Regions from separate parts of the Homo sapiens genome. Here region 1 is linked to region 2. The links come from fine-mapping of genetic effects on gene expression. A gene starts in region 2. The other region holds a variant in brackets. All regions are shown on one strand. Distances are from middle to middle.

Region 1 (17,254 bases), 36 kb after region 2:
AGGACTGATACCTGTCTGCAGCCTGGGGTTTGGGGACCCCTGGGTCTAAGGAAACCAAGGATGACAGAGGAAACGTCATTGGATTTGGTGATTCGGAGGTCACAGATAACTTTTAAAACAGTAGTTTCAGTGGTGAAATGGTAAAGGCAGTACGAGTGCAAAGCACAGAAGCATTTAGTAAGAACTCTACAATGTACCAAACACTTGGATGGACATTTAACATGTATTAATTTCTTTAACCACCACCCTGTGAGCTAAGTATAACATATTTTATAGATACAGAATGAAATCTGAATAGTAACATACCCACAGTTACACAGCTACTAAAGTGGTTTTAAAAGACTTCAAAAACCCAGATCAAAAGTTCTATCTTGCTCAAAAGTCAATGTTCTTCCTACTATAACAGCTTCCTGGGATGAAAGAATAAGTCTTTAAAGAAAAGAATAGAAATACAGTGGCATAGCAGACTCAAGCTTTAGAACGTCCTCCTAGAGTTGAACAGCACACACACTTATATGGCAGAAGATACAAGCATCTATGTAGGCTAGAGAGGGAGAGGCTGAAGAAGGTGGACAGGAAGTGAAAATGGACAGTTTCTAGAGAAAGAAAGATGGGAAAGGGTACATGGACACATCTGGAGGGAGGGGGTTGCTCTTGAAAAGAAAGAAGGTCATTTCTTCCTCTGAGATATATATATATAAAGAGATGACACTGAGATGAAAAAAGTGAAGTGGAAATATACCTCAGATGGTTGAGATTTTTCTCAGCAAAGGAAGAGATTAAGTTATTTGCTATAAAAACCTGAGGAAATGAGAAGAAAAGGAACACAACACTAGAGACCCAGCAGAGAGCACCAACTGGCATAAAAACTGACCAATATCCTCACATAGCTGTCTCTGATGTCCCTCAGAATTTCAGGGGTCAAACTGGTAAAGCTAGCGAGGCTTATTTAGGATTGGGGACTAGAAAGGTAAGTCTACAGAAAGTGAAGCATTCTAGGCCATCAATAGGAGCTTAGTAAAAGCTGATGATCATGGGATCCTGGTTACACAGGGAGGCAAATGAAATCAGCATTAGGGTAATGGGTTGGAAGAACAGGGAGACAAAGAAGGTTCACAAAGAGAAAGAGAGAGAGAAAGGAAAAAATACCAAATTCCATAAGAGTGGAAGAGTGAGAGGGTTTGTTTGTTTGTTAGGAGACAGGGTCTTACTGTCACCCAGACTGGAGTGCAATGGCACAATCTTGGCTCACTGCAACCTCCACATCCCGGGCTCCAACAATCCTCCTGCCTCAGCCTCCCAAGTAGCTGGAATCACAGGCATGCACCACCATGCCTGGCTTATTTTTGTATTTTTTTTTGTACAGATGAGGCTTTGCCATGTTGCCTAGGCTGGTCTCGAACTCCTGGACTCATGCGATCCATGCGCTTTGGCCTCTCCCAAAGTGCTGGAATTACAGGCATGAGCCACCACACCCTGCCAAAGTGAGAGGTTTTAAAGAGTTTGTGGTCAGATGTTTTTTGATACAGAGCTACAAATCATTTTGCCAGAAGCAGTGAGCCACTGATTGGGGCTCAGCAACCCCTGCTTTGCTACTGCCCCTTCAAACTGTATGCAGAGAATTCAGAGACAACCAGCTCTAAAAACACACAGGCTCTGGTTCCAGAAAAGTGAAGGCTAGCAACGAATGAACTAGCCCATACAAGAAGCAAACATAAAAATATTCCTCCTTCTTTTAAGCTGAACAATTCTATCTCTAAATTTTAAAAATGCATTAAAAGGTCAAAAGTCCACAGTAAAGGGAAAAATAGATTATGTGTTATGAGACAGAATGAAAAGTAAACAAATCTGCCAGGCTATTTATAACCCACACGTTAAAAATTTTTAACATACAATTCTAATACAGCAGGCATAGTTTGTGCTTAACAACTTTGGAGAACATCTAGCATAACTTCAAGAAAACGATATTGCTCAATTTAATGTTAATAAAAAAGGTCCACCCATTTGCAATTTCAAAGGGCAAGCTATCATTTATATTTTTAATCTCACTTCTACAATTTTGGGGCTCTTGACACGTTATCCAACCCTTCCATCCAGGGAAAGATGGAAAAATTAGCCATGGCAACTTCCTCCACTACCGCTTTGATCCCACATTTTGCACTTAGACTCTGGCAAGGTACTACGTTATTTAGGACAGTTTTTTACACCAGTAATTCTGACTACCCTTGCTCCACTAATAAAGGAGGGAGTACTGAGACTGGCACAAGACTAAATCATATAGAAAATATCAAGTACTCCTAAGGAGGGTTGAACAGTAACAACAATCGAGAATACAAGCAATTTAAGAAGTTTTGAACTTAAAAAGCTTTTCTCCATTTTAGTCCTTTCTAAATAGAAACAAAGGGCTTGTACAACATGGAATTCTAAGACGTCAGTAGGCAATTTAAGCTAACACTGAATAAAAGAATAAATCACTTATCCTTGCTTGTACCATTAAGTGATGTCTTACATGTACTGCATAAGGTCTTCTTTTTTAAAACGAATATAACAGTTTCCAATTCTTTCACTAGATCTAGAAAGCTCACGCCCCCACCTCAACAGTTCAGAGACCAAAGATTTCCTACAGCCGAAAAAAATGAATGATTTAGATGAACAATCATTTGCCAACAGAGGCACCATTCCTCTACTTGGTGGGTCAAGGAGTCAGACTCTGACCTAACCATCCAAGGCTCCTGGGGACTTGATTCTCCCATCAAAGTGAACAAAATTCACCGGCCTTTGGATAACAGCCCTTTCTTTGTAACTCCACATGCCGGGCTATCAGGTATTTTCCCAGGCAGAGAGTTTAAAACTTTTAGAGGAAGCAAGAGGGTCCAAACGAGGAAGATGGGGAAGCGACTAAAATGGGAAGGGCGGACGACCCACCCACCTAACGCGAATGGGGCACCACTTGCAGGGGCGAAGCTCCAGCAGCAGCCAGGAAAGGTGGAGGACGGCGGGCGTCGCGACCCCCATCCACTGCGTGAGAATGGAGGACCTGCAAAGCCAGGGGCCAACTGGAGGCCTGAATGGGGAGTGCGGGGAGGGGAGAGGGTGAGACATGGAGAGAAGAGAGCCACAGAGTCGGGCCGAGCACCGTAGGGTCCCGAGCAGCGGCGGGGCAAAGCCGAGGAAGCTTTGCCGGGAGGAGACGTCAATGCCTGCAGCCTCACTCACCTGCCAGACGCTCGCCCAGTGGCCAGAAGTACGAGCGCCGCCCGGGCTCTTCGTCTCCTGCCGGACGCAGCTCCTGCTGCCGCCGGTGCTCCAGGACCCGAGAACTGAGGGTGGTACAGAAGCGGGCAAAGGGGCGACCGGACCCGAGCCCAGGGAGGCGTACATAGGGGGCGCCGAGGCCCGAGAAGGCAACTG[A/C]GTGCTTCACCTTCCTCACCAACAGCCAACAACAGTACCTGGGAACAGCATCGAGCCAACCTCGGTCCGCAGCTCCCGGGCCTGAGCCCGCAGGTCCCCCCCGAGCAGCGGCTAGGCTTCCGGCGGCCACACCCCGCCCCCTTGCTACTTGCCCTCCGCCATCTTGTGGGAGGTGGGAAGACTACAATGCGCATGCGTGAGAGGTGTTGCTGGCTTCCCACAGCCCGGAGACTAGAGCCTGTTATGCGCAGGCGCAATGGGTGCTGCGCTCCGCTTGCCGGGCACTGCTTCGCTGTTCTGTCCCGTGAGCCATTGCTGCCTAGGCAGCCGAGTCTCAGTTGCAGCACTTACTGGCCTTCTCTGAATTGTGCTGCAGCCCAGTTAATAGATCCTTCTGCACACACTAGTCCATTATTCCGCAAACATCTATCGAGTGCTCACTATTTGCTACTCCCCGTACTAGACGCTGATGATAGAAAGATGAATAAAATTCTGTCCCAGCCCCACAAGGGCTCATAAGATAGCGGAGAAACGGAGATGAGCAAGTTATTATTTTGTAGCTGCGACCTCTGCTTCCCTACCACCTCTCACTACCACCCTGTAGTTTTAATTTAAAAACACCTCTTCCGGGAAATCCTTGTTTGTCTCACACAGTTTGATAAGTTCTTTACCTTGGATTACCTCTTCAGTTTCATTTCATTCAACATTAATTGAACAATATCATTTGGGTTTCCGATATATACTAGATACTGTTTCAGGCTCTAGATTTACAGCAATAGGAAATACAATAAACTCACGGAACTTACATTCTAGTGTGAAAGAATAGACAATAAAAGACAGTCAACAAAAGAATGTTTGATGGTGATAAGGGATAGGAAGAGAGCAAACCACACAGAAAGATGATGGACAGTGAGAGGTGGTGATTAGTGATCTTTCTCCAGAGTTGACATTTAATCTGAAGCCTGACTGACCATGGGGGCCCAGGAGCCACTGGAAGATCTGGGGCAAAAGCTTTCAGACAGAGGGAACAACAGAACAGATCCTGAGGTGGTAGCAAGTCTGACATGAAAGAGGGACAGAAAGAATAGGTGACATGGACAGTGGGAAGGAGATGTGGTCGGGGTAGGCAGAGGCCAAATCAGGTAGGGCCTCCAGGTCATGGTAAGAAGTTGGATTTTATTCAAAATGGCCCTTGTATGTTGTTGACGCTGTCTCCCCTAGCCCCCACTACTCCTCTTCAAACACTTCTAGCTCCCGACTGCCTTTCTGGTTTGTATATGCCCCCTTGACTACCTAGAAGACACTTCTTCTTGTTCTTTAAATGTCTAACTTCTTATCTTTCAAGTTTCAGTTTAAATATCACCTCAGAAAGACCGTCCTTCCTAAGAATAATAAATTTTCCCCTGTCTTCCTTATTATTCTCAATCATTGCACCTTATCATTTCTTCCATGGTACTCAATATGTTTTTAAATGATCTATGTTTTGTTTCTTCACTGCCTCCACACTAAACAGTCGACTCCATAAGACAGGGAATACGTTTTGTTTACCAATGAATACACAGTGCATAGCACCATACCTGGCATGAGTGCTCTGTCACTCAGTGTTTGTTGATTTAATAAGTGTGGAAGTTTGTCAGCATCTAAGTAGTTGGTGGTGTACTATATTGGTTTCACTTGGTTTTTAAAATGAAATGCAAGTCACTTCTTATTTATATGTCTCCTCAGCTAGAATATAAGTAGGAAGGTTGGAGAGAGAGCAGATGGGATGGAGAAGGGTGGGTGATTGTGGGACAGTGGGCAGGGTTTATATTACATATGTTGTAGTATGGAGAGAAGGAAGGCTTCAAGTTAATGCAATCCCTATTATATGTGCTGTGAACTATGTTAGATATGAAATCCTCACCACAGCCCTGCTAGATAATTATCCTCACTTTTATACATGGGCAAATTCAGAGAGATTAAGTCCCTTGCCCAAGGTCTCACATTAAGGGATAGTGCTGACCATAAAGCCCATGCCCTTCCCATCTAGAGAAATTGGATTTGGAGACAGGCTTACTCAGAGATTTGATTCTGTGTCATTAGCAGGCTTTCATTAGAGATTTCATTCAGTTACCCCCACTTAAGGGTCCCAGTCGTATTACTATCCCTGTGTAGGACCTCAAAGGGCCTGCCTGGAAACTACTGTCGTTCTTTTCTTTTGAACTAGAGCAGAACTCATTTTAGCATTTTCCTTTTAATGTTTTTTAAATTCTGTATTTATTTTTATTAATAACATATATATTTTCATTAAAGGAAAAGAAGAAATACCAGCAAAATGGATACATAGTCTAAAGGCTAGCTGCATCTATTGGTTAGGCTTCTCAATGTGCCTAGATGGGACTTGCTGGCCCATCTAGGACCCAGCTGATACCTTAGACCCCCAAAGACCCTTCTGGAAAAGAGTTATAGGCTCACTGCAACAACCTCTTCTTCCATTGACTTATCAGAATTACACACCATCATTTCCCCTCTAAATGGGATAGCTGCCTCAGGATGGCTGGGGAGACCTGCCAGAAAGGATGGGGCTGGCATCTTATCTGTGGGGGCCATTTAGTCCTTATATGAGAGAAGAGATTCACTGAACCCATAACATATGCTCTTCAACCAAGCCCTATCAGTCCATATGCAAATCAAGTAGTAGGTAGGAATATATACTTGAAAACACTTCCCCGCCTTCTACCTCACTACAATGTAATCCTTGGAATAAATCCTAGAAACAAGACAAAGTCTTCAGTTTCTATGGTATTTACTTCTCTTATGGTTACCATCTGTTAGAGACTGAATTGTACTACTCCGAAAAAAGGTATGTTGAAGTTCTGACTTTCAGTACCAAACAATGTACCCTTATTTTGAAATAAAATTATTGCAGATATAATTAAGATAAAATGAGGTCATACTGCAATAGGGTAGGATAACCCACCATGACTACTGTCCCTTTAAGAAGATGACCGTGTGAAGACATAGACAGAACGTGAGGATGCCAGATGAGGACAAAGGCAGATTGGAGTTATGCAGCTACAAGCCAAGGAATGCCAAAGACTGCCAACAAACCATCAGAAGCTAGGAAGAGGCATGCATGGACTTTCCTACAGGTTTCAGAGGGAACATGGCCCTGTGGACACCTTGACTTTGGATTTATAACTTTCAGAACTCTGAGTCAATAAATGTCTGTTGTTTTAAGCCACCCAATCTGTGGTACTTTGTTATAACAGCTCTATGAAATTAATACACCATTTTATCTGGCAGGGCCTGAAATAGAGGAAAGAGATGTTGGCAGGCAGTGAGAAGGCTTGAGCTACCGCTCCAGTATGAGCAAGCCAGCTGCACAACCTCAAGCCAGTCGCTGAACAACAGTTTCCTCATCTGTACAAACAGAGATAATGACAGCCACCCTGCCTACTTCAAAGATCTGCAGTGGTAACTAACAAGTATTCCTCCAGTGATGCTGTGACCAAGGTCTGACAGATACTAAGAAACAATTATGTAAAGACAGGGTTCCTGCCACAGGGAATTTTACAGTCTGGCTGAGAAAACTAGACACTTTCCTATGATAAGATAAATAGTATGGGCAAAGTGCCAAGTGCGTGGTTTGGATCTTATTCACTATTGATGCTGAAAAAGGGAAGGATCCTGTGGACTGGGGTGGAGAGGGAGACTTCATGAAGGGCCTTAGCAGAAAAGGAATTTATTAGAAGGATATTTGACATCTACAGGATCTTCAGGAACAACACGCAACATTATGCCCGGAACTGGTCCCAAGAAGCCATCACTGTAGCCACTGCTGGATGCAAATACCAAAACTGAGACTGCCAGTACCACTTGACCCAGAGTGGATGATGCCTCTGCTGCTTCTGGAAGATAGATGCAGTTACTATCACTGCCACTACTCTCAACAGAATGGAGGGTCACTTCATATTCACAACATTAGCTTTCAACCTCAAGCCTAGAATGGGGGCAAATCATGGATATAACCTAGTAACACATTAACACTCTACCTACATGCTGTCTGATAGAAATATAATGCAAGCCACATACATAATTTTAAATTTTCTAGTAGCCACATAAGACAGTTTAAAAACAAAAACAAAAACAAAAAACCAGCCTCTAATCCAAGCAGTTTGGGAGGCTGAGATGGGAAGATTGCTTTAGACCAGGAATTTGAGACCAGCCTGGGTAATATAGTAAGACATTGTCTCTACAAAAAAATATTAGCTGGGCATGGTGGTGCATGCCTGTAGTCCTAGTTACTCAGGAACCTGAAGCCGGAGGATCACTTGAGCCCAGGAGTTCCAGGCTGCGGTGAGCTATGATTGTGACACTGCACTCCAGCCTGGGTGACGGGGGGGAGACCCTGACTCTAAAGCAAAACAAAAACCAGGTGAAACCAATTTTAATAATATATTTTATTTAACCCAATATATCCAAAATATTTCAACATGTGCCACTAGACATACGTCAAGTGCTCAGTAGCCACGTGTGGCCAGTGGCTACCATGTTTGACAGCACAGCGGTAATTGATAGGAAGGCCAGGAAAATGAGCATATGAACTTCTAATTTCGATAGTGAGAGGGAATTTCTGCTTCATGAGGAGGGCAATCTCCTAAACACAGTAAGAGAATTAAGACATAGTCTTACAAATGGAAAATAAAGTTGAAGGAAAACCAAACTGGATTGTAGAGAATGGAAAATGGTAAACTAAGGACATTTAATTTCATCATGTAGTGACTGAGAGCCACTGAAGGTTTGTGAAATGGGGAAGTATTTTGAAAATTTAATAAAAGTACCATGAAGGGGTAGGTGATAAAAAACACTTGAAGTTAGAATTTCTGGGCTTAGTTATGTTTTTTTTTTTTAATCTGTGCAGCTTTATACAAGTTGTCTCTCTGGATTTTTCTTCTCATCTTCAGACATGGTGCTTATAATATCTATCTCAGGCTTGTTGTGTTGTGAGGATTAAATGAAATGGTACATATGAAAATGACCAGCACCTGGTGCATTATTTAGGGTTCTCCAAAGAAACAGAACCACTAGAATATATATGAGATTTATTATAAAAATTGGCTCATGTGGTTATAGAAGCCAAGAAATCCCACAATCTGCCATCCATAAGCTGGAGAACCAGAAAAGCTAGTGGTGTAATTCAGTCTGAGTCTGAAGGCCTGATAATCAGGGTGCTGACAGTATGAATGCCGGTTTGAGTCTGAAAGCTCGAAAAAACAGGAGAGTTAACGTCCAAGGCAGGAGAAGATGCTCACCCACATTGGTGAGGGAGATCTTCTTTATTCAGTCTATGAATTCAAATGCTACTCTCTTTCTGAGACACCCTCACAGACACACCCAGACATAATATTTTATCACTTATTTGGGCGTCCCTTAGCCCAGTCAAGTTGACACATAAAATTAGCCGTCACACTTGGCAAGCACTCAATACATGATACTTAAATCTGAATGAATCTGAGTATCCAGTTAGAGGTCTAGATAGATAGTAAGGAGGTTGGATTATTTCCTAAATGTCAAGAGGAGCTCCAGGGTAAAAACCCAGAAAATATGTATTTTAGATATCTCAATTCTGTCTCAGCGTCGACAAGTTAAAATGTGTACTTGTTTTTTGCCTAGACCATGTCTTCCTTGAAGCCCTTACTGGTCATCCCTGGCCAGAGGTCATCTCTGCTTCCATGGCTTATTGTTCTCCTTTAGGTAGTATTACATTGCCATGTGTTGGCCTCATGTCTTGTCTTCTTTACTATAATAGATACATACATGAGGGCATAGGCCATATCTTATTCATATTTGTATTTATCTCCTACAATTTCTTGAATTGAAAGTGTCCAAACAAACAGAAGCTGGATGATGAGTACCATGAGTATTCATTATATTATTCTTACTACTTTTGTGTATGCTTGGAATTTTTCATAATAAAAAGTACTTTTAAAAAGACATCCAAGAAACTTCTGCTGCTAGATGGGGGGCTAAGTACCAGTGTTTACTTCCTTCTCCTCTGTATATTCCACTAAAATATCAGTAGCAGGACTTAATTTTTGATGAAACTAATGAATGTTAAGCTTCAAGGCTCTTCACTTGCGTGGGCCCTTTTCAAGGTCCTGGAAAATGCCTTAGCAATATGTTCATAAGTTTTTGTAAAATCTGCAAAAGTAGTATCTCTTAATCACAATTGGTTAAGGGCATTTCTCTTTCCACTTTGACTTACTGTCTGTCACAGGTCTGTTTTGTCAGGTGGTATTAGAGTAGCTGTAATAACTTTGGGTTCCAGCTAAGGGGAAGTTGAGTTTAAGAGACATTTTTAAAAATTTGGTCAGAGGATATTTATGTGATTCATAGTTATGTCTGTGTCTAGTATCTTATTGATAACTATCTTAGTGGAGTAATAACTTCCAGGAGTACTTCTACAGTCCAGTGCCTGACTCTGTCTGCATTCTAACACAATGGGGCAGGACCAGAGTTTGTGTTGTAACATGAACATGTTCTGTGGCACCTGAACCCGAAGTATGTATACAGCCAGAAGTTAGTCTATAGAAAATTCTTCCAAACTTTATAGCACATATGGAAAATGAACGTGTAGGTAACACGGAAAAAGAAAAGACATGATGGAAATTTTCCCAAATGAGATAACAATCTTAAGAAATCACAAGCCATTACTAATAACAAGTTGTCAAGCTGAAAAAAATCTAAACTATCAATAATAAAAATTTTGTGATTAACCATGTTAGAAGAAAGACAATTATATTTCTATTCAATCTATTAAATTATAATAAAACAAAATCACCACTTAAAGAGCATCTAGAAAAAAATTTAGGACAAAACTACAGAGGTATGTCAGGCAGTAAAATAATGCACTTGTGTTATTTTTCCAGGTTTTGTGATGCTTGTGGATTTTGTGTCAGCATTCTAGATTTATTTTTTCATTCTAAAGAAATATTTACTTTTTCACCTAAATTTATATTCAAACGTTGTATTTTTTTTTTCAAATTCAATGCCTTATCATGGGCCTCTGCAATTACAGTTAGAGACATCAACATCCCTCTCTCAGTAATTGATAGAACTACTAGGCAGAAAATCAGCAAATACATAGAAGACTTGAACAACAGAATTAATCAATAGGATCTAACTGACATTAATACAACACTCAGTAGAATACACTTTTTTTTTTTAAAGCATCCATGACACACCACATCTTTGGCCAGAAAACAAAACTATGCAGAATATGTCCTCTGAGCATAATGAAATTTAATTAGTAATCAATGAGAGAAAGGCAATGGGAGAATCTCGATACACTTGAAAATTAAATGACACACTTCTTTTTTTTTTTTTTTGAGACGGAGTTTTGCTCTTGTCGCCCAGGCTGGAGTGCAGTGGCACGATCTTGGCTCACTGCAACCTCCGCCTCTCGGGTTCAAGCGATTCTCCTGCCTCAGCCTCTCGAGTAGCTGGGATTACAAGCGCCCACCACCACACCCGGCTGATTTTTGTATTTTCAGTAGTGACAAGGTTTCACCATGTTGGCCAGGCTTGTCTCGAACTCCTGACCTCAAGTGATCTGCCCACCTTGGCCTCCCAAAGTGCTGGGATTACAGGCGTAAGCCACTGTGCCTGGGCTAAATGACACAATTCTAAATAATACCTCAGCAAAGAGGAAGTCTCAAAGGAAAGTTTTAGAAAATATACAGAACTGAATGGAAATGTAAATACAACATATCAAAATTGGTGGAATGAAGCTAAGGTGGTGCTGAGAGGGAAATTCATAGCACTAAATGACTACATTCAAAAAAATAAAATGATTACCTTAGAAAAGATCCCAAATTAATCACCTAAGTTTCTACCTCAAGAAAAATGAAGAGCAAAATAAACTCAAAAAAAGCAAAAGGAAGGAAATAATAAAGATAAAAGCAGAAATCAATGAAATTGAAAAGAATAACAATAGGGAAATCAATAGAACATGAAGCTGGTTGATAAACCTCTAGCAAGCCTGACAAAATAAAAAGAGAGGGGGCACAAATTACCAATATCAGTCATGAAACAGGATATAATTATAATTCTTGCAGCTATTAAAAGAATAAAAGGGAATACCATGGACACATGTACACTTATAAATTAAACAACTTTAGAAGAAATGGACCAATTTTTGAAAACCGTAAATGACCAAAGCTCAAACAAGATGAAACAGAATAGTCCTATAACCATGAAATAAATTGAACTGCCACTAAAACGCTCTGGAAAAAGAAATCTCCAAACCCAGATGGTTTCACTGGAGAACTCTACCAAACATTCTGAGAAGAATAAGCTCTGATTTTAAACATTCTATCCTAGAGAATAGAAGAAGAAGGACTACTTCTCTATTCACTTTATGAGGCCAGTATTACTTTGATACCCAAACTAGACAAAAACAGTAGAATAAAAGGAAATTACAGACCAATATTTCTCATAAACTTAGACACAGAAATCCTCAACGAAACATTGTTTTTTCTTGGAATCCATGGGGAATTGGTTTCAAGCTCCTGAGAATACCAAATTCCACAGATACTTGTTTCTTATATAAAATGGCACAGTATTTGCATATAATCCAGGCATATCCTCTGTATATGTTAAATCACCTCTAGATGACTTTATAGACATGCTCTGCTTAACGACAGGAATACATTCTGAGAAATGCGTTTGGTGATTTTGTTATTGTGCAAACATCATAGCATGTACTTACACAAGCCTAGATGGTATAGCCTAGGACACACATAGGATATATGATCTAGCTTATTGCTCCTAGGCTACATACTTATACAACAGGTTACTGCACTGAATACCGTAGGTAATGGTAACACAATGGTAGGTGTGTGTATATTTAAACATAGAAAAGTTACAGCAAAAATATAGAATGATAATTTTAGGAAATCATCGTTGTATATGTGGTCTGTTATTGACTAAAATATTGTTATGCACTTCATGATTGTAATACCTAATACAGGATAGATGCTATGTAACTTGTTGTTATACTATATTGGTTTTTATTTTTATTATTTTCATTGTTATATTGTTATTTTTATTGTTCTTTTTCTAAATATTTGTGATCTGCAGTTGGTTGAATTTATGGATGCAGAACCCACAGATATGGAGGATTTTGAGTGTACTAGAAAATCAAACCCAATAATATATTTAAAAAAAATATGACATGGCAAGTAGGATTTCTCCCAGGTATGCATGGCTAGTTCAATATTCGAAAATCAATGTGATCTACATTATCTACATACAACAGGCTACAGAAGAAAATTCATGTGTAATCACATCATTTGATACAGAAAAAGCATTTGACAAAATGCAACACCCTTTCATGATAAAACCTGGGTCTGTTCCCTGCCCAATAACTGCATAAAAGGGAATAAATTTGTGACTATTGAGAATGAAGAATGTTCCATCAGCTGATGAGAGATTTGGCAAGTGTCTAGAAGACAAGAAATGATGGATGAACCAAGGTGGAAGACATGCTCCAATCCAGAACATAAACTGCCTTATGGAGAGGCCCACCTGACGTGGAATTGAGGGAGGCCTCTGCCCAAAAGCTAGTGAAGAACTGAGGTTCTTAGTCCAACAGTTCATGAGGAACTCCCTGCCATCAATCATGTGAGAGAGCTTGGAAGTGACTCTCCCAGTCAAGGCTGCAGATGATAGCACAGACTTGGCTGAAAGCTTTATGAGAGACCTTGAAGCACGGGTACCTAGGTAAACCATGCTCAAATTCCTGACCAATAGAAACTGTGAAAAAAAAATACTTCTTGTTATAAGCTGCTAAATCTTGGTATAATTTGGAAGGCAGACATGAGAAGGTATGAATTCCATTTCCAGCAGTAATTGAATTGGTCATAGAGCAAGTTTGAAAATCTTTATGACACCAATTATACATGTTTCTTCTTTTTTTGTTTCTCTTGTGCCTGTATCAACATTTCACTCATGATACACTAAGCTTCCCTTCTTTTAAGCTCCACCTATTTCTTAAAACTTTCCAATTAAAGTGGCTGAATGCAATAATCAGCCAGAGACTCTGTGCTTTTCTGTCTAATGACAAAAAAAAAAAAAAAAGGAAAACTCTCCATCTGGGTAGAAATTGATAATTAGCCATATCCAATTCCTGGACATCTGGCTTTTAAATGAAACTGAGCATAGCAATGTCTCCTCCCTCGGCATTATTTTACTGAAAGTGCTACGTATTCTTCTAGTACTTAAAGGGACAGCACCAATGTAACTTGAATATCAAGTTACTAAAGATTTGTCTCAATTGTTTTTCATACTACCAAAATCTTAGCTGTTTATCATAGAAAATTTGGAAACTCCAGAAAATCTCAAGAAGAAAGAAAAAAATCTCACCATTCAAGATAAGAATTGTCACCATTTTGGTGGTGCTCTTTCCAGGTTTACTTTAAAATGAAAGGCATTTCAGAATAACAATATTGCCCTCTACAATAAATCCTCATTTTATAAAAGCATATTTTAATGAATAAAATTTAACAAAGAAAACCAAATCATTTATTTCACTGAAATTCACATCAATATCTTGACACAGTTTATGGTTTGGCTGATGACATTGATAATCCGCCCTAACAACCAGTCTGAGTAGCTCAGGGGAACATCCCACAAGACCAAAGCAGCCCCAGCAGCACGTTGAGAGCGGTGGGGCTCAAGAGAAACAACATATGTTTGCATCCGCTCTCCCTTCATGCTGCTACAGCTCCCCCGTCATTTGGGGTTGGGGAGGGATCCAGAGACTTGCACCAAGATCTTTAGTAGACTGGAACCAGCTTAAAGAACTGAGAGAAAGTCAGTTTAGAGATTTTATGAGTTGGCAATTACACACAGCTATTATTAAAAATTAAATAATATAAAATTGCAATTCAATAAATTATATTGAAAACAAAGGTAATAAGCACTCAAAACTCATCACTTTCAAATCATTTTCTCACATTTAACCATTTCCTATGCTCCTGATGCCATTCCATCTCTTGTATCTAAATGGTGGAAAAACTGTATAATGTTCTAGGGCACATCTACTCAAAACACTAAGTTCAATGATGTCACATTGGTAGTTTGAAATTGGCCAGAGCGAGAGCATTTACACCAGGGAACTCAAGAAATGCTCAAAATCTGGGCTTGACTTATTGTTTTGTTGATAGTCTAGTGATGGAGAAAATGTTAATGCTGTACATTAAAGTTAAAAGCGTGTCACGTCTATTGCTCTTACTTTGCGAATAGCACACAGATTGAGGAAATATTATTCCGGTATTTAAAAACCATTATCAAATTCTTCCAAGTCGCTCACATTATAGACAAATAAATAAAGTTCTAACATATATCTTTGTTGTTTCATTTTCATCTTACTCATTAATGACTAAGAAAATATCAGCCAGGATTCTTGTCAAAACTACACTTGTTTGTTATTTATAATGATAGGTTGGCTACAGATACAAAAGTTCAGCAAAAATCAATGAAACAATCATGGGCAAAAATCAGGAGAATTATTGGCTATATGAAAGTCACATTAAAGAACATTTTCTGTTTTGCTAATATTTATACACTATGTGCTATATACTCTTTTTTCTCTATTTTTTCTTTTTGTTTGTTTTTTTTTTTTTGAGATGGAATCTTGCTCTGTTGCCCAGGCTGGAGTGCAATGGCATGATCTCGGGTCATTGCAACCTCTGCCTGCGGGTGCAAGCAATTCTCCTGTCTCAGCCTCCTGAGTAGCTGGGATTACAGGCGTGTGCCACCATGCCCAGTTAATTTTTGTATTTTTTTTTTTTTATTAGAGATGGGGTTTTGCCATGTTGCCTTGGCTGGTCTTGAACTCCTGACTTCAAGTGATCTACCTGCCTCAGCCTCTCAAATTGCTGGGAATTATAGGCGTGAGCCACTGCACCCAGCCTGTGCTATATACTCTTCATATCAGTAAAATTTAAAAGAAACTTTAGTTTGTGTGTGTGTGTGTTTGTGTGTGTGTGTGTTTGTGTGTGTGTGTGGGTGTTTCAGAGAGCTGGTTACTAATCATTTACCAGTGTACTACTGATTAGAAGCAAATGCTTCCTTTTGCCCTACTCGACTTAGCCCCCAGCTAATCCCTTTCAGCAAGGTTTCAGCTGATGAATAAATAGGAAAAGTAAGTGAAAGAAAAATAAGGGCTGCAGGAAATAGAAGAGGGAGGAAGAATATAAAAGAAAGACAGGAAGGAAAAGAAAGATAAATTTCTCCCTGACTTGCCTGTGTACATCTTTCTTTCTCTTTATCTTTTACCATCAGCCAGCAGCTGTCTTTGAGAAAGGAGACAAACCATTGCACAACCCTTTAGGAGTCCTGGAACCACAAATATGTCAGGGATTAGCTGGTAACCCCACTCATAAGAGAGCTAAGAGGCCAGCAGTCTCCACCAACAATGACCACAGTGATCTGGGTCAGAGTTTTTTGTTTTTGTTTTTGTTTTTTTAAATTGAGCTGTAATTTATACACAGCAAAATTCACCATTTAAAAGTATAGTTTAATAAGCTTTGACAAATGCAGACAGTCATGTAACCACCACCACAATCAAGATATAGAACTTTTTTGTCATACCCAAATGTTCACTTGAGCCTATTCGTGGTCAACCCCTCCCCATTTCCAGCTGCTGGCAACCACTGATTACTTCTCTATCCCTCTTATTTTGTTTTTTTGCAGACTGTCCTATACCTTATGAGTCCAGCTTCTTTCACTTAGCATAATGTATTGGAGATTCCCCCGTGTTGTTGCATGTTTAGTATTTCCTGTCTATTTACTGCATTATACGGATGTACGATTGTTTGTTACCCATTCACTGGTTGAAAAATATTTGGGTGTTTTCAGTTTGGGGTGATTATTAATAAATCCATTATAAATATTTGTGTACAGTTTTTTGAGTGGGTATATGTCTTCATTTCTCTTGAGTAAATACCTTGGAATGGGATTTTTGGGTCATACGGTAAGTGTATATTTAACTTTATAAGAAACTGCCAATCACATATCTTAAATGATGAGCATCTTTTCATGTACTTATTTGCCATCTATGTATTTAATTTGTTGAAGTGTCTGTTCAAATTTTTGCCTATTTCTAAATGGGATTTTAAAAACCTACTGAGTTGAGAGAGCTCTTTATGTATTTTGGAAATATGTCTTTTAATGAATATGTATTTTATAAATATTTTCTCACAGTCTGTAGCTTATATTTTTAACAGTGTCTTTTCAAGAGTAGAAGTTTTAAGTTTTAATGAAGTCCAGGTTATCAGCTTTTATTTCTTTTGTGGATCATGTTATAGGTGTTGTATCTAATGAATCTTTGCCTAACCCAAGGTCACAAAATTTTTCTCCTGTGACTTTTTCTAGACATGTTACATGTTGTACATTTAGGTTAATGATCTATTTTTACCTTAATTTTTGTGTGTGGTACAAGATAAGGGCTAAGGTTCTCTCTTTTTTAGTATATAGATGTCCAATTGTTCCATAATCATTTGTGATTATCATTTAAGAATCTTCTTTCTCCATTGAGTTGATTTTGCACCTTTGTTGAAAGCCAATTAACCGTATGTATGTATATGGGTTGTGTTCGAATTTTTAAAAGAGACTTCAATGCTAGGGGCTACCAACTACTTTTCTAGGGAGGAAAGCTAGTATCTCAGAGAGCCAGACACTGTTCTCACCAGTTCTGAGAGATGAGTAAATTCCTAAAGCAGGAAGCTTTGAGGGAGGCTCAAGCATAGGCTTGCTTTACCTTGAACTGAAAGAGACAGGTTATTGTCTGACTACT
Region 2 (8,000 bases):
TGACTCATATCTAATAAAGAGAATACAGCAGAAGCAATGGTGTGTGGCTTCTGAGTCTAGGTCATAAATGGCCTTTCTGTTAGAATCATTGAGGGAAGCCAGCTGCTATGTCATGAAGACATTCAAGCAGCCCCATGGAGAGGCCCACGTGACAAGGAACTGAGGTCTCTTGCCAATAGCCAATGAAAAACTGAGACTATGTGAGTTAGCCATCTTGGAAGAAGATCCGTCAGTCTAGTCAAGCCCTTCAGATGACTGTATCTGTGACTGACATCGTGACTGCTACTTCATAAGAGATCCTGCCTCAGTCAGACCATCCAACTAAGACATTCCTGAATTCTTGCCCCACAGAAACTGTTTAAGCCACTAAGTTTTGGTACAATTTGTTATACAGAAATACATAAATAACATAGTCCAAGGAGATATGTATAAGAATGTATATCATAAAGGTGTTTGTGGTTAACGGGATTTGGAGAAAACTTACGGCCTTCACTGGAGGAACAGTGATAGGTACTATAGAATACTATAGAGCAGAGTTAGCATCACAAACTAGATGGACATAAAGTAAAATGGATAGATCTTAAAAACAGTATTGAGTTAATAATGTTCAAAAATTATGTAAATTAAAAACACAGGTTTGAGTACACACAAAAAAAGTAAAACCCAAGCAGACACTTGCACACCCACGTTCATAGTAGCATTATTCATGATAGACAAAAGGTGGAAACAACCTGAAGTGTCCACTGACAGATGAATGAACAAAATGTGGCATATACATGCAATGGAACATCATTTAGACCTAAAAAGGAAAGAAATTCTGACACATGGCTACAGTATGGATGAACCTTCGAGACATTATGCTAAGTGAAATAAGCCAGGTGCAAAAGAATAAATATTAAATGGTTTTTCTTATTAGAGGTTCCCAGAATAGTCAAATTCTTTGAGACAAAAAGTGGAGTGGTGGTTGCCAAGGGTTGGGGGGAGGGGAAAATGGCATGTTAGTGTTTAATGTGCACAGAGTTTTAATTAGGGAAGATTAAAAATTTCTAGAGATGGGTGGTGGTGATGGTTGCACAACAATGTGAATGAACTTAATGCCACAGAACTGTACAATTAAAAGTGCTTAAGATGGTAAATTTTATGTATATTTATCACAATAAAATTTTTTTAAAAATCTCATTAACTGTAAAAAACAGACTCACAAAATGATGCTATTTCTCAAGAATTTATGCATATTAAACACACAAGAAGAGTGGGTGCAGGGTGTGAGAATAAAGGGGAGAAGGCTTACCTTGTATCAACTGATGATGTATGATTTGATTTACAAAGTCAACTTTTGAGAACATACCTATTCACCTAATGTTCTCATTGTACATTCAAGATACTTAGTACTTCAAAAGTAATTTAGTTTTCAAAAATTCTCTGTGACTCTAAGCAGATTTTATGAAAAAGCAGTGTTTCAAACAGCAATCCACCATATTCTTCTAAATTAGAGGATATCTTAGATTATATAAATCTTTAAATATCCTAGGAGTAGCCAAAGCAGTGTTTAACTTGTAATGAAATTTCACATAATTCTACCATGAGTTTTCTTAGAGATTAGTTTACGTGTCTTATTTGACTCCAGCATTTTTCAAAGATGATATTTAGAAGGTATCCTAATAAATATGTAGTGAATATATTTCCTAAACTATTACCCATCTTTTCTGAACCATAATACTCTATCCCATTTTATGTGCTGCATAGGTAGGTTTCAGATTCTAATACAAGAAAAGGGGGAGAAGGGAGATCAAAATTGAAGAGAACATTTAAACATATACAAGTATAAAAGATCATTTAAACATATACAAGTATAAAAGATTGGTTAAATTTCATAAAATGAGTAACAGTTTATAAAACAGACAAAAATGGTAAAATCTACAGAGCAATTAATGCAAATGGAAAAACTTCATGGTGGCTCACACCTGTAAATCCCAGCACTTTGGGAGGCTGAGGTGGGAGGATCATTTGAGCTCACGAGTTCGAGACCACCCTGGGCAACATGGTGAAACCCCATCTCTACAAAAAATATAAAAATTAGCTGTGCACGGTGGTATGTGCCTGTAGTCCCTGCTACCTGGAGGGCTGAAGTGGGAGCATCACTTGAGCCTGCGAGGTTGAAGCTGCAAGTGAGCCATGTTTGCTACTGCACGCCAGCCTGGGTTGACAAAGTGAGACCCTGTCTCAAAAAAAAAAAAAAAAAAAGAAAAAAAAACACAAAAAACAAAAACTTCAATAGCTTAAATTCAGTTCATAAAACATTTATGAATATTTAATTTTAAATTCCTTAAACAGCACAATTCAGGCCATATCAGAGCAGTGAATAATTTCAAAGACCACTAAAGCCAATAGGTCAGTCATAGATTAGATATACTACAAGAGGAATGAAATAAACTTTAGTTCTTTATTTCTTATTTAATTCAGAAAAACATCTCAATCTAACACTGTTCTACTTAAATGTGTTCATATGATTAATAAGACGATCTTTAAAAAGTCGTTTATGAATGTCATTATGAAAACTGCTGCTTCTCCATTTGCTTAGTCACCAGGTATTTTTTAAAGCATTCTTATATTGTAGATAAAAATCCACAACCAAGTAGGATTGCCTTTTCATTTTTTGAATAATTTGTCAGTGACTTACACTGTTTTTCAAATTACCTCTGTTATATATTATTTTGTATGTATGTAATAAAAGGCATTATAGTTTTATAGAATTAGAATAAAATAGAAGACTTAAGTTCTTTACATTGTTATACAATATTTGACCTTGGATAAAGTCACAACATACTTGAATAGGAGTCTCTAACATTTAAAATAAAAATAATGCTACAATGAGCTGTTAAAATGGTAAAAGGTAATTTATGTAAAAATAATAGTTTTATAGACTCTCAAACACTATGCTAATGGAATTCAAAGAACTGAGTAATATTAGCTGTTAAATGTCATTTGGAATTTTAATGTGACATCTTTAGTTCTAGCCATAGTTTCCATCAGATTTTAAAAAAGAGACTCTAAGTACTTTTTTTTGAGATAGGGTCTTGCTTGGTTGCCCAGGCTGGTCTTGAACGCCAAGGCTCAAGTGATCCTCCTGCCTCAGCTTCCCTCAGCCTCCTGTTTAGCTTGTATTACAGGCATGGGCCACCACGCCCGGCTCCTAAGTACTATTAACCCTGATATCCATGATCAAGTAATTCTTAAAGCAGAAATAATTTTTTAAAGAACTATTTAAATTTATCAGTGAAAAACTTATGTAGTCTTATTTATCTAAGCCAGCCCAATTCCGCATTATCTTGAAAATATTACTGAAACAATATAATAGGTCATCTTAAGACTTTCTATTACATAAACATTATTTAAGAGACACTGTCACTGACCCTGGAGGGCTTTACAAAGCCACTGCCATCCTTGTTCAGGGAGTGGGGAGGTGTGGCAGGCTGGCTACTATAAGTATGCATAAAGATAGGCTTTTACATTTAGGTAAAGGAAAAAAAAGCTCAATGAAAAACACTTTATATCAAGAGTATATCTCATGAGTACTCACTAAACAGAAATACATCTAGAAGAAAAGCCATGTTGCTTTAATTTAAAATATTTGCACACTGAATTAATATCTTAAATATTTATTCAGTGTTATCTAAAAGCAACCAAAGAGAAATATAAAATTACTTAACTATAGGTCTTAAATATTAGGCCTACAAAAATTTGTTCACCATAATTTTTGACAAAGTAATTTACGTTGTAAAGTGGTTTGCTCTTGAATGACCTAATTAATGGCATAAAAGCTTCACTAACAAAAGAAAAGATCCACTGTTTCATACATAATTTATTAAGATTTCGTATAGGATTTATGTTAAATCAAAGAATTTGAGCATCACTTTCGTGATGTAGAATCAAAGTGTCCAATACATTCCAATGACAAAACATTCATAGCCTGACATTATTCCTACTTTAAAAAACAGTAATTTTTTTTCTGCTGTTCAGGCTGCATTTATAAACTATGGCTTCTTGTAAATGGGCTTCTACCCCAGCATTTGCTGCAAGGTTTCTTATTCCTCTGCAGTTGTCTTTTCGGCCTAACAGAGGGAGAAAAAGCACTGCTGCAGTCGTCCGCAAAAAGCCACTACCACTGCATTTTGTAACTAACAAAGACACTGGTATCTGTTTGCCACCCTGTTCACAGGGAGTTTACTTAGATGTTTTACAAAAGCAGGCACACTACTGGTGACCAGTATTTCACCAACCAACACCACCACTCACGCTCTGCAGTACCTGCCTCCTCCTCTTTCTCTCATCCCCAGTAGCTCTTTCCACTAGATTCACATCAGCCATCTGCAGCGGTTTTGTCTCCTCTCTCTTTTGGCCACCAATGCATGTGTCCTTGTCGCCAGGGAGGAAAAGAAGCCTTTCAATGGGGTAGAGCTTTTGCTCCTCGCCATGAATATGCTCCATTCTTTGTTGTCCTCTACCCGTTTCCTTAGATACTGTTATTCCACTCTGTCAAATGGCATTATAAAAACAAAAACCCCTTCTGGCTTCAAAAACAGCTTTTCTCAGCAGACTCCCCTTAACACTTCTACCCCTCCCCCTTCTTCCTCTTCTGTCAAAAACCCTGGATCCGAAGTACAGGAAATCCATCTCCAGTGCTGCAGTGGGGGGCGGGGGGACGACGCCCCTGCCTCCTCGTTTGGCATGCTGCAGTGGACCCTGTGCCAAGGAAAGGCCATCGGTTTAAGACAGTGCGAGGGAAAACCACCTTCCCCCCTCCCCCCGCAGCAAGCCTGGCCATGGTGGCTCCAGCACCTACCCCATTTCCGAGTCCGGCAGCACCTCCATTCTGTCTCCAGTGACACCCTGGCGGGCTGCACCAATACAGCCACATGTCGGTCACGTGCGCCCACACCCAGCCAATCGGCGGGCTCCCGACGGGAATGGGGAGCGCCCTGGTCCGCATCCAGCGGATTACACAGCTGCTTCTCTCTCCGCTTCCCGACCCGCACTCCGCAGTGGGGCACAGGGCCCCGCCCAACCGCACAGCCTGCCTAGCCCTAGCCCCGTACCCCTCGGGGGTATGCCCTCGCGGCCCCAGTCCCCAGCAAGCAAGGAAGTTGATGGCAGTTGACACGCATAGTAAAGAGTCGGGGGAGGTCCGCAGGGCAGAAGGATTAGCACAAGATGCCGGAGGTGGGAGGGAGAGTAATAAATTACATCTCGATTGCTATGATTTTTGCAGCACAGAGAAACAATAATATTAAATGAATTACAATGAATAATTTTACATTACAAGTCACTGAGTTGTCAGAGTGATGACTTGTTAGATAGATCACTCGAATTATATTTGAATTAAAAATAGTTACCAGAAAAGCTATGCTAGCAGCTTAGTAGTGGAGATCAGAACTCTGGAAGTCTGGGTTGCCTGAGTTGAAGCTTTACTCCTGTCACTCTAGCTCTGTAACTTTAGTTACTTAACCTCTCAGTGTTTCAATTTCCTGCTGTATAAAACGGGAACAGAAGTACAGAATAGAGGAGTTAATATATATGAAGTATTTAGAGCAGTCCCTGACACATACATAGAAGTGCTGTTAGCTACTACAAATCTGAGGCTTTAATGTAGTATTTTAATGCAAATTCTACATTGCATTTAAATCGAACCAGGTGATGCTTAAATTCCCAATTTTATGAGGTTGAAGGACAAAATCCAAACTGTCAAGAATATATAAAGTTAAACTTAAATTCTGGTTTAAATGGGGGGAAACCAGTTTCTATTATCTATTTAAAATTTAAAAGGATACTATACTTCAAGTTTTCTTTGTTTGTTTTTTGAGATAGAGTCTTGCTCTGTCACCAGGCGAGTGCAGTGGTGCAATCTCCGCTCACTGCAACCTCCACCTCCCGGGTTCAAGCGATTCTCCTGCCTCAGCCTCCCAAGTAGCTGGGACTACAGGCACGTGCCATCATGCCCAGCTAAGTTTTGTATTTTTAGTAGAGACGGGGTTTCACCATGCTGGCCAGGATGGTCTCAATCTCCTGACCTTGTGATCCGCCCACCTCGGTCCCTCCAAGTACTGGGATTACATGCGTGAGCCACTGTGCCCGGCCTAAACTTAAAGTTTTTAAATGAAGCATATTATAATCGTTTCTTAATTTTCAAATAGTATGAAAAGAAGCAAGCTATTAAATAGCATATTTGAGGCAATTCCATTTGATTAAAAAATGTATATATTAGAAAAGCAATAGACACACAACAAAATGTCCATAGAGGTTATTCCTGGAAAGTGAGATTATGGAGCTATTTCTGCTGTCCTTTCGTGCTTTGTTTTTTTTCTCTTTCATTAGTCCCTGTGTTACAATGCCTGATATACAGCAAATACACCCCAAATATTTATTTAACAAGTGAGTTATTTCCACACTGATGGCATACTACTGTTCTATTAAAAGTTTAAATATATTTAGAAACAATTTCCCTTCATATTTGAAATAAATAAAAGCATGTAAATCAATTTGATTATATTCTAAATAACTCTCTTTTGAGAATGACTTCATTTTACAAAAGGCTTTCAAAATCCTCTTACTGAAAGCACATGATTCACTGCACAGGACTTATTTACAAGTCATTTTTTGTGACAAATTCAGAATAGGTAATTTCTCATAAGGCCTAGAACTTCCAGAAGGAAAACAGTCTTTCAAAACAAAGAATACCTTTTAAAAGGTCCTCAAAAGAACTTCTTAGTACCCTAAGACACAATTGTAAGCCTATTACTCTTGACTCAGACTATGATACAAGCTATTATTTAGTAAACCAGTTTGTAGCCAAAATGTTTGTCTAAATTTTTACTGCATGTATCATAGATATTCATCAGTGACTTAAATGACATAGTTGTAAAGAAAGCTACGACCATTATATGTTCATTAGTCACTATGCTTCAAATCTAAAAGAAAGCCAAGTTAAACATTTTGTATTTTATGTTGCCAATTACTCAGTAATATTTTTCTTATTTTTAGAGATTCCACAAAAGTTTAATTTGAATTTTTAAAACTGCTTAGCTATTTTAAAACTATAATTAAATATAGATATATAATCAAAGTATACTGGGCCAAATTTCAGCATGGAAAATTACTGAAGCATTACCTTGTCTTATCAAGTTTGCACATAGCTCAGAATAAAGCTCCTGCCATCTCTATTTGATTGAAGATGTTATTTACACTACATATACATATATATATATATATATGTATGCATTAAAAATATTTTCTGGGCAGGGTGCAGTGGCTCATGCCTATAATCCCAGGAATTTGGGAGGCCGAGGTGGCCAGTTCACTTGAGCTCAGGAGTTGGAGACCAGCATGGGCAACATGGCGAAACCTCATTTCTACCAAGAATACAAAAAAATTAGCCAGCTGTGGTGACACGCGCCTGTGGTCCTAGCTACTCTAGAGGCTGAGGTGGGAGGATCACTTGAACCCAGGAGGCAGAGGTTGCAGTGAGCCGAGATCTCGCCATTGTACTCCAGCCTGTGCAACAGAGACCATGTCTCAAAAGATATATATATTTTTTCTGATCAAAATGAAACAGAAATAAATTGTGTAACACTGTTTAAAGACCGCACTGACAAACATATCTCTTATTTTCAGTATCAGTGTTTGTTATAACCAGCTTCATTGCTTTTAGTAAATGGTTTCATATGTAAATGTTGTAAATATGAACATATAATTCAACTTAAAAAACCCTTCTGAACCTTCTGCAGCTACAAAAAAAAATGACTAAATAGGATTAATAGGATTCTTAATGTCTTAAATATTACATTCCCCAGCTACTTGGGAGGCTGAGGCATGAGAATCTCTTGGACCTGGGAGGTGGGGGCTGCAGTGAGCCGAGATCACACCACTGTACTCCAGCCTCAGTGACAAAGCAAGACTCTATCTCAAAAAAAAAAAAAAACACACACACACACACAAGAAAACCC

Alleles and levels. Alleles are on the strand shown, and positions count from the first base shown. SD is a standard deviation of normalised expression in the study named.
As copies of A replace C in region 1, the expression in monocytes of the gene that starts at base 4,884 in region 2 goes up (large effect, 1.2 SD a copy in Quach 2016).

Evidence for each region. PIP is the estimated chance that this variant, and not a neighbour inherited with it, causes the effect.
Region 1: its variant is fine-mapped to the expression of APC in monocytes (Quach 2016, PIP 0.95).

What each region holds. Positions count from the first base shown.
Region 1 is chr5:112,693,845-112,711,098 of GRCh38, reverse strand. It overlaps a transcript of APC not described here. Among named protein-coding and RNA genes, the nearest start is that of APC, 35 kb to the left of the region's middle. RefSeq lists enhancers at 3,562-3,621, 6,653-6,947 and a silencer at 6,653-6,947. The variant A/C (reference allele first, on the strand shown) is at 3,412.
Region 2 is chr5:112,734,769-112,742,768 of GRCh38, reverse strand. It overlaps APC (APC regulator of Wnt signaling pathway), which reads right to left and starts at 4,884. Exons shown (of 16, transcript NM_000038.6): 1 at 4,844-4,884.